Regions from separate parts of the Homo sapiens genome. Here all the other regions are linked to region 3. Evidence: fine-mapped expression QTL. A gene starts in region 3. Each other region holds a variant in brackets. All regions are shown on one strand. Distances are from middle to middle. Region 1 overlaps KIF24 (kinesin family member 24). Region 2 overlaps KIF24 (kinesin family member 24). Region 3 holds the start of NUDT2 (nudix hydrolase 2).

Region 1 (2,761 bases), 35 kb after region 3:
GTTTAGTTAATTTTTTCTTTGGAATCAGATAGATAAGTGAATATCACTTATCAATTTTTCATAGATGTATTTTTTTTTTTTTTGAGATGGAGTCTTGCTCTGTCGCCCAGGCTGGAGTGCAGTGGCGTGATCTCAGCTCACTGCAAGCTCTGCCTCCCACATTCACGCCATTCTCCTACCTCAGCCTGCCTCAGCCTCCCAAGTAGCTGGGACTACAGGCGCCCGCCACCACGCCCGGCTAATTTTTTTGTATTTTTAGTAGAGATGGGGTTTCACCGTGTTAGCCAGGATGGTCTCCATCTCCTGACCTCGTGATCCGCCCGCCTCGGCCTCCCAAAGTACTGGGATTACAGGCGTGAGCCACCACGCCCGGCCTCATAGATGTTTTTTTTTTTTTTTTTGAGACAGAGTCTCACTCTGTCGCCCAGGCTGGAGTGCAGTGGCGCCACCTCGGTGCACTGCAAGCTCTGCCTCCCGGGTTCACGCCATTCTCCTGCCTCAGCCTCCTGAGTAGCTGGGACTACAGGCGCCCACCACCATGCCTGGCTAATTTTTTGTATTTTTAGTAGAGACGGGGTTTCACTGTGTTAGTCAGGATGGTCTCGATCTCCTGACCTCGTGATCCGCCCGCCTCGGCCTCCCAAAGTGCTGGGATTACAGGTGTGAGCCATCGCGCCCGGCCAGATGTATTTTTAAGTTATTATTCACACTTAATAAACGTTGAATGGGACAGGAATGATAGTAAGGGCCTCTGTTGCATAAGTATTTAAAATATAGGCATGGGCCACATGTGGTGGCTTGCACCTGTAATCCAAGCACTTTGGGAGGCCAAGACAGGAGGATAGCTTGAGCCCAAGAGTTTGAGACCAGTCTGGGCAACATAAGGAGACCCTATCTCCACACACACCAAAAAATATTTATTTTATTTTATTTTATATTTTTGAGACAGGGTCTCACTCTGTCACCCAGGCCAAAGTGCAGTGGTGCAATCTTGGCTCACTGCAACTTCTGCCTCTCAGGTTCAAGCAATCCTCCCATCTCAGCCTCCTGAGTAGCTGGGACTGCAGGTGCCTGCCACCACGCCCAGCTAATATTTCTGTATTTTTTTAGAGATGGGGTTTTGCCATGTTACCCAGGCTAGTCTTGAATTTCTGGGCTCAAGCAATCCTCCTGCTTCAGTCTCCCAAAGTGCTAGGATTATAGGTGTGAGCCACCATGCCTGGTCTATAAAATTTTTTTTTTTAATTAGCCAGGCATGGTGATGTGCACCTGTGGTCCCAGCTACTTGGGAGGCTGAGGTGGGAGGATTGCTTGAGCCCAGGAGGTCAAGGCTGTAGGAGCTGTGGTCTTGCACTGTACTCCAGCCTGGGCAACAGAGCAAGACCCTGCCTCTGTCTGTCTGTCTGTCTGTCTGTCTGTCT[GTCTA/A]TCCATCCATCCAATCCACCTACCTAGCTATCTACCTACCTATCTAATCTACCTACCTACCTATCTACCTACCTATCTATTAAAATTGTAGGCATGTATGATAGAAAATGCCAAGTAGCCTGCTAGTGTTGCTGATTCCAGAGAATTTTGACTGTTTTTTCAAACAACTTTTTAAAAATTGAGGGATAATTTACATACAATAAGATGCACAGATCTTAAGTATTCACATTTGATGAGTTTTGAGAGTTTTATATACGTGAGTAACAAATATCTGTAACAAGACATGGAACATTTTCATCACCCCAGAAAGTTCTCTTGTGTCCCTATTTAGTTAATCCTCCACCCTCACCCCCAGGTCTTAGGTAACCACTGACTTACTTTCTGTCAGTATAGATTAGTTTTATCTGTTCTACAATATCATAGAGATAGAATCATTATACTTATATGCTTAACATAATGTTTGCTTAGCATAATGGTGTTTTATATTAGTACATGTTGTTACACGTATCTGTGGTTTTCATTGCTGAGTAATATTCCCTTCTATGAAATTATCACACTTTGTTTTGTCTATTCTCCTGTTGACAGATATTTGCATTGTTTCCGGCTTTGGACTTTATGAATAAAGTATGAACATTCTTTTTTTTTTGAGACGGAGTTTCACTCTTGTTGCCCAGGCTGGAGTGCAATGGTGCGATCTCAGCTCACCGCAACCTCTGCTTCCCGGGTTCAAGTGATTCTCCTGCCTCAGCCTCCCAAGTAGCTGGGATTGTAATCCCACACCCGGCTAATTTTTTATTTTTTAGTAGAGATGGGGTTTCTCCATGATGGCCAGAACATTCTTGTATAATTTTTTTTATGAGCATGTTTTCATTTACTTTGGGTAACAACCTAGAAATGGAATTGCTGGCTCATAGGATAGGTTTATATTTATAAGAAAGTGTCAGTCGGGCACAGTGGTTCACGCTTGTAATTTCACACTGTGGGAGGCCGAGATGGGAGAATCATTTGAGCCAGGAGTTCAAGACCAGCCTGGGCAATATAGTGAGACCCTATCTCTAAAAAAAATTTTTTTAATTAGCTGGGTTTGGTGGCATATGCCTGTAGTCCCAGCTACTTGGAAGGTTGTTGCTTGAGCCCAAGAGATCAAGGCTGCAATAATCTGTGATCACTACACTCCAGCCTGGGCAACAGAGCAAGACCCTGTCTCAAAGAAGAGAAAAAAGGGAAAATGTCAAACAACTTTTCAAAGTGTACCATTTTATACTCCCAACAGTAACATGAGAATTGTAGTTCTGCAATATCTGCTATCGTCAGGCTTTCTTATTTTAGCCAATCT
Region 2 (2,761 bases), 21 kb after region 3:
AAAAAAAAAAAAAAAGTACTCCTTGTTTTATTTTAAACATTATATATGTGAGTTATGGGCAAACAAAATTCATTCTTGAGCCATATTTTCTTTTTAAAAATACTGTTATTCATACCTTAAGATAAAGAATTTATATCTGGTCTTACATTGGCTAAGGTTTCAGAAGATCTCATAATCAGTTATTTTACTCCATAAAAATAGAAGACTCAGTTTTAACAGTAAAAATATCTTTAATAATTTGAAATACATAAGTGAATTTTTATTATAATATTTCTGAAAACATTTTGTTTGGTCTAGGAGATCACAGAGCATGTAATACTGTTTTCTTCTTTTAATTCTGAGAGGAATAGATTGTTCCTTGACTATGAAGGCAGATTGTTGCTATTGCATTGGTTACCTCAGCGGTGAAGGAGTAAATATTTTCTTTTTTTTTTTTTTTTTTTTGAGACGGAGTCTCGCACTGTCGCCCAGGCTGGAGTGCAGTGGTGCAATCTCTGCTCACTGCAAGCTCCGCCTCCCGGGTTCATGCCATTCTCCTGCCTCAGCCTTCCGAGTAGCTGGGACTACAGGCGCCCGCCACTATGCCTGGCTAATTTTTTGTATTTTTAGTAGAGGTGGGGTTTCACCATGTTAGCCAGGATGGTCTTGATCTCCTGACCTTGTGATCCACCCGCCTCAGCCTCCCAAAATGCTGGGATTACAGGCGTGAGCCACCACGCCTGGCCTATTTTCTTGAATATTACTTTTTTACTGAACAGTACATAAAAATCTAAATTGGAATTACTTATAAGTAAAAATACCACTTTATTTAACACCATCAAGGATAGGATGGATATTTTAGTTTAACCATTACCATTTCATTTATTTGACTCTTTTGTTTATTTGTTTGTTTGTTTGATTTGTAGAGACAGGGTCTTGCTCTGTCACCCAGGCTGGAGTGCAGTGGTGCAGTCATAGTCCACTGGGGCCTCAAACTCCTGAGGTCAAGTGATCCTCCTGCCTCAGCCACCCAAGTAGCTAGGACTACAGGTATGCACCACTGTCCCCAGCTAATTTTTCAATTTTTTGTAGAGTTGGGGATCTCACTATGTTACCCAGGCTGGTCTTGAACTCCTGGCCTCAAGTGATCCTCCCACCTCAGCTTCCCAAAGCACTGGGATTACAGGTGAGAGCCACTCTGCCCTGCCCAAACTAGAGCTTTTTAAAAAAACATGCATGTCTTTTTGCTCCTTGAACTTGAAACTATGGGCCTTTTGTTCATATGAGTCATC[C/G]TAGAGCCCTGAACAATTTTAAAAAGGACCAAACATTTTCTATCCTCTTTGATCAGCTTTATATGATTAGGTTATTGATATCCAACAACTAAAGATTTTAACACAAAACCCTTATTAAAATGATGCATTAGGCCAGGCACAGTGGCTCACACCTCTAATCCCAGCACTTTGGGAGGCCAAGGCGGGTGGATCACCTGAGGTCAGGAGTTCAAGGTCAGCCTGGCCAACATGGCTAAACCCCATCTCTACTAAAAATACAAAAATTAGCAGAGCGTCATGGCAGGTGCCTGCAGTCCCAGCTATTCTAGAGGCTGAGGTAGGAAAATCGCTTGAACCCAGGAGGCAGAGGTTGCAGTGAGCCAAGATTGTGCCACTGCACTCCAGCCTGGGTGACACAATGAAACTCTGTCTCAAAAAAAAAAAAAAGCATTAAAAATTTTCATTTTTGATGAGCACAGTGGCTCATGCCTGCAATCCTGGCATTTTGGGAGGCCAAGGCAGGCAGATTGCTTGAGCCCAGGAGTTCGAGGCCAGCCTGGGCAACATGGTGAGACCCTGTTTCTACAAAAATACAAAAATTAGCCAGACATGATGGTGTGCACCTGTAGTTCCAGCTACTATTGGCTGAAGTGGGAGGATGGCTTCAGCCCAGGAGGTTGAGGCTTCAGTGAGCTATGCTCGCACCACTGCACTCCAGTCTGGGTGATAGAGCAAGACCCTGTCTCAAAACAAAAAATTCCCTTTTCTTGTGAAAAATCAAACATATGCAAAAGAAGAAAAAAATAGAACACTGAATCCCAATATGTCCATCATCCAATTTCTTTTTCTTTTTTCTTTTTTTTTTTTTTTTTTTCAGACAGAGTCTTGCTCTGTTGCCCAGGCTGGAATGCAATGGCACTATCTCACCTGTGAACTCCACCTCCTGGGTTTAAGTGAGCATGCCCAGCTAAGTTTTATATTTTTAGTAGAGATGGGGTTTCACCATGTTGGCCAGGCTGGTCTCGAACTCCTGACCTCAAGTGATCTGCCCGCCTCAGCCTCTCGAAGTGCTAGGATTACAGGCGTGAGCCACCGCACCTGGCCCGTCATCCAGTTTCAATGATTGTCACGATTTTCCCACAGTACCTCAAAATGGTACATTTCATTTATTCTGTCATTTATTTATTCCATCTGCAGTTTCATGCAAAAATGATGCATTTTAAAGTCCCTAAATGTTGGTTAAGAAAATAAAATTTGCTTTAAAACATGCCATAAAATTAGTGCTTTATGCATTCATTATATTAGAAAATTATTTGCTGGTTTTTTTTTTTTTAAACCAATTCAGATCCCAGTAAAAAAATTATTCTCCAGGCTGAGCGTGATGACTGATGCTTGTAATCCCAGCACTTTGACAGGCCAAAATGGGAGGATTGCTTGAGGCCATAAGTTGAAGACCAGCCTGGGCAAGATAGTGGGACCCTGTCCCTACAAAAATTACAAAAATTAGCCAG
Region 3 (2,761 bases):
AGAAAAATAATTTATCTTTTGAAGAATGGATTTGTTTCCTTATTAGTAAGAATTACCTTTTTTCCCTTAACTGACTAATTTTGGGCAAAATTGGGTACTCAGTTACAAAAAGTACACCAACGCACTGACTAGTGTATTTGCCTGTTCTTATTATAAGAATAATAGCTACCTTTTTTTTTTTGAGACGGAGTCTCCCTCTGTCGCCCAGGCTGGAGTGCAGTGGTGCGATCTCTGCTCTCTGCAAACTCCGCCTCCCGGGTTCGTGCCATTCTCCTGCCTCAGCCTCCCGAGTAGCTGGGACCACAGGCGCCCGCCACCACGCCCGGCTAATTTTTTGTGTTTTTAGTAGAGACGGGGTTTCACCGTGTCAGCCAGGATGGTCTCGATCTCCTGACCTCGTGATCCGCCCGCCTCGGCCTCCCAAAGGGCTAGGATTACAGGCGTGAGCCACCGCGCCCGGCCGCTACCATTTTTTAAGAAGTTACTACTCGCCAGGCGTTGTGTCAAGTGCTTTACCTTCATTATTTCACTTAATCTTCACAACAACCCGCTGAGGCATTACTGCCATTTTTCAGAAGAGTAGAAAGGGAACTATAGCTCAGAGATGTCTGGGTAAGTGACTCAAATGTAGGTCTGCCTGACTCCTAACATCAATGATCTTAACCTTAACTCTATAATAGCGTTTTACATTTGACAATTTGATTGCATTCAGTTTTTTTTTGTTTTGTTTTGTTTTTGAGACGGAGTCTCGCTCTGTCGCCCAGGCTGGAGTGCAGTGGCGCGACCTCCGCTCACTGCAAGCTCCGCCTCCTGGGTTCATGCCATTCTCCTGCCTCAGCCTCCCGAGTAGCAGGGACTATACGTGCCCGCCACGACGCCTGGCTAACTTTTGTATTTTGTTTAGTAGAGACGGGGTTTCACCGTGTTAGCCAGGATGGTCTCGATCTCCTGACCTCGTGATCCGCCCGCCTTGGCCTCCCAAAATGCTGGGATTACAGGCGTGAGCCACCGCACCCGGCCTGCATTGTTTACGCTGTCCCTTTTTTGTTTGTTTGTTTAAGGCGGTGGGGCTCTTGTTCGACTTTCTTTACTTCTGCTATAACTGCCACGATATTATCCATTCAATAACTGAAGCAATTAGAAAACATAAAATCTCTTTTGGAAAGCAGGCGGGGTTTAATGGGTAGCAACAAGTGAAACTGAGGCCCAGGGAGGGGAAGGTTCGGCGCCTGGGCCTCTGGGCCCTAAACCTGGACCTCTCCCGCCTCTGGGATTTGGACGACCCACCCTATCCCCACTCCGACGGGGACAAGCAAGGCTCAGAGTCAGGGAACCTCCCTTCTCCCGGTGCAGACAGGAAAACTGAGGTCCTGAGAGCGGATGGGACCTGGCCTGCCCACACCTCACTGCCAACTTAGAGGAGGGCGCATCCCTCTCGGGCCCTGCAGCGACCAGAGGTTTGCCAGAGGCAGATTCCCATCGCTCCAAGGCTCATTTCCTCCACTGAGAACTAAAATCAAGTGGGCCCTTAAGGGTACTCACCCGAAGCAGAAGGAGGTAGGAGGCGGACCTTGGACGGAAACTGAAGTACACCGGCCAATCAGAAGAGCCTGGTTACGCTTGGGCCCATCAATAGAATTCGGCAGAAGGATCTTCGACCCGCCTCAAAGGTGCGCGTCTCACACTGAAACGTCGCGAGATCTTCCCTCAAGCGGAACGATTGGCTGAAGGTCGGAAATTGAGAGTTACGCCCACGGTTTCTTCAGACCTCTGATTGGTCTTCCAGAGGAGAAGTCAACGAACGTCAACCGATTCCTTGGATGCCCATTGGTGGGCGGTGCGGGACTGGCGACGCGCGGGCCACAGCGCGGGCGTTCGAACTGGCGCTTGGCGGCGTTGCCATGGAGATGCGGCCTGGCCGCCGCCGGTGGCTCCCGGGTTGACGGGACTGTTAGGTTGCGGGCTTTGGGGCTCACTCCCGACGGCATTGTCTTCTCCTCTTCTCAGACAGGGCAGACCGAGGAGTTTGGACCGAGGTGAGAAAGGGCGGGGAGAATAGAGGAGGGGTAGGTCTGGTCCGGAACCGTGGCGCCTGCCCGCGGACACGGGTGCGCGTGACGTCGGCTGAGCGCGGGAGGAAACTGGCAGTTGTGAGGGAACCGAGAGTTGGCCCCTCTTGGCTCTTCCTAAAGTTCACCTACTTTCCTATCTTTCATCCCCATATCTCTGCCTTTTCTTCAGCAATTATCTTGAACGCCACTTCTCTCACTTTGGGAGACTAAACTCTTGAGTCCCAAAGCCTTCTTGCTTTTGAACCGATAAGCCTGACCGGCACCTCTTTTAGGGCATTTCTATTCGCCCTTGGGTTGTTTACTTCCGGGAAGCCCGTTCGCTTCCCTTTTCCCATAAAATTTTGAAGCCTTTGAGGTAAGGCAAGCATCGTTCACAATGTCTTGCACATAGTAGATTTTCAGGAAATATTTGTTGAGTTGAATTTAATTTACAAGAAATAGATTGGATTCCTCTTCATGCCCTGCCTTGTTGTCTCTCTGCTTCAGAGACGATTTTTTATTTCGAGGCTAGGGGGAGGCCACCCTAATCTTCAATGCAAAAGGACCTAAAAGTCCACACACAGTCCACAGCTGGCCTTTCTACTCTTTGTGAAAGGCTAAACTTTTTTGGATTGGTTGCTGCAACTCTTCCTGCATCTGTGGCTTTTAGCCTTGGTCTCCCAATAATTTTATTAGACTCCTTTTAGTCT

The links. PIP is the estimated chance that this variant, and not a neighbour inherited with it, causes the effect. A credible set is the group of variants that fine-mapping cannot tell apart.
Region 1: its variant is the best candidate, but not a certain one, in a credible set for the expression of NUDT2 in monocytes (Fairfax 2014, PIP 0.72).
Region 2: its variant is the best candidate, but not a certain one, in a credible set for the expression of NUDT2 in whole blood (INTERVAL, PIP 0.63).

What each region holds. Positions count from the first base shown.
Region 1 is chr9:34,293,859-34,296,619 of GRCh38, reverse strand. The region is part of intron 4 of KIF24 (kinesin family member 24); the gene reads left to right. Among named protein-coding and RNA genes, the nearest start is that of KIF24, 34 kb to the left of the region's middle. The variant GTCTA/A (reference allele first, on the strand shown) is at 1,422.
Region 2 is chr9:34,307,224-34,309,984 of GRCh38, reverse strand. The region is part of intron 2 of KIF24 (kinesin family member 24); the gene reads left to right. Among named protein-coding and RNA genes, the nearest start is that of KIF24, 21 kb to the left of the region's middle. The variant C/G (reference allele first, on the strand shown) is at 1,272.
Region 3 is chr9:34,328,381-34,331,141 of GRCh38, reverse strand. It overlaps NUDT2 (nudix hydrolase 2), which reads right to left and starts at 1,573. Exons shown (of 5, transcript NM_001161.5): 1 at 1,543-1,573. KIF24 (kinesin family member 24) reads left to right here and starts at 1,874. Exons shown (of 13, transcript NM_194313.4): 1 at 1,874-2,036. RefSeq lists enhancers at 1,628-1,817, 1,353-1,860, 1,948-2,047, 2,148-2,207.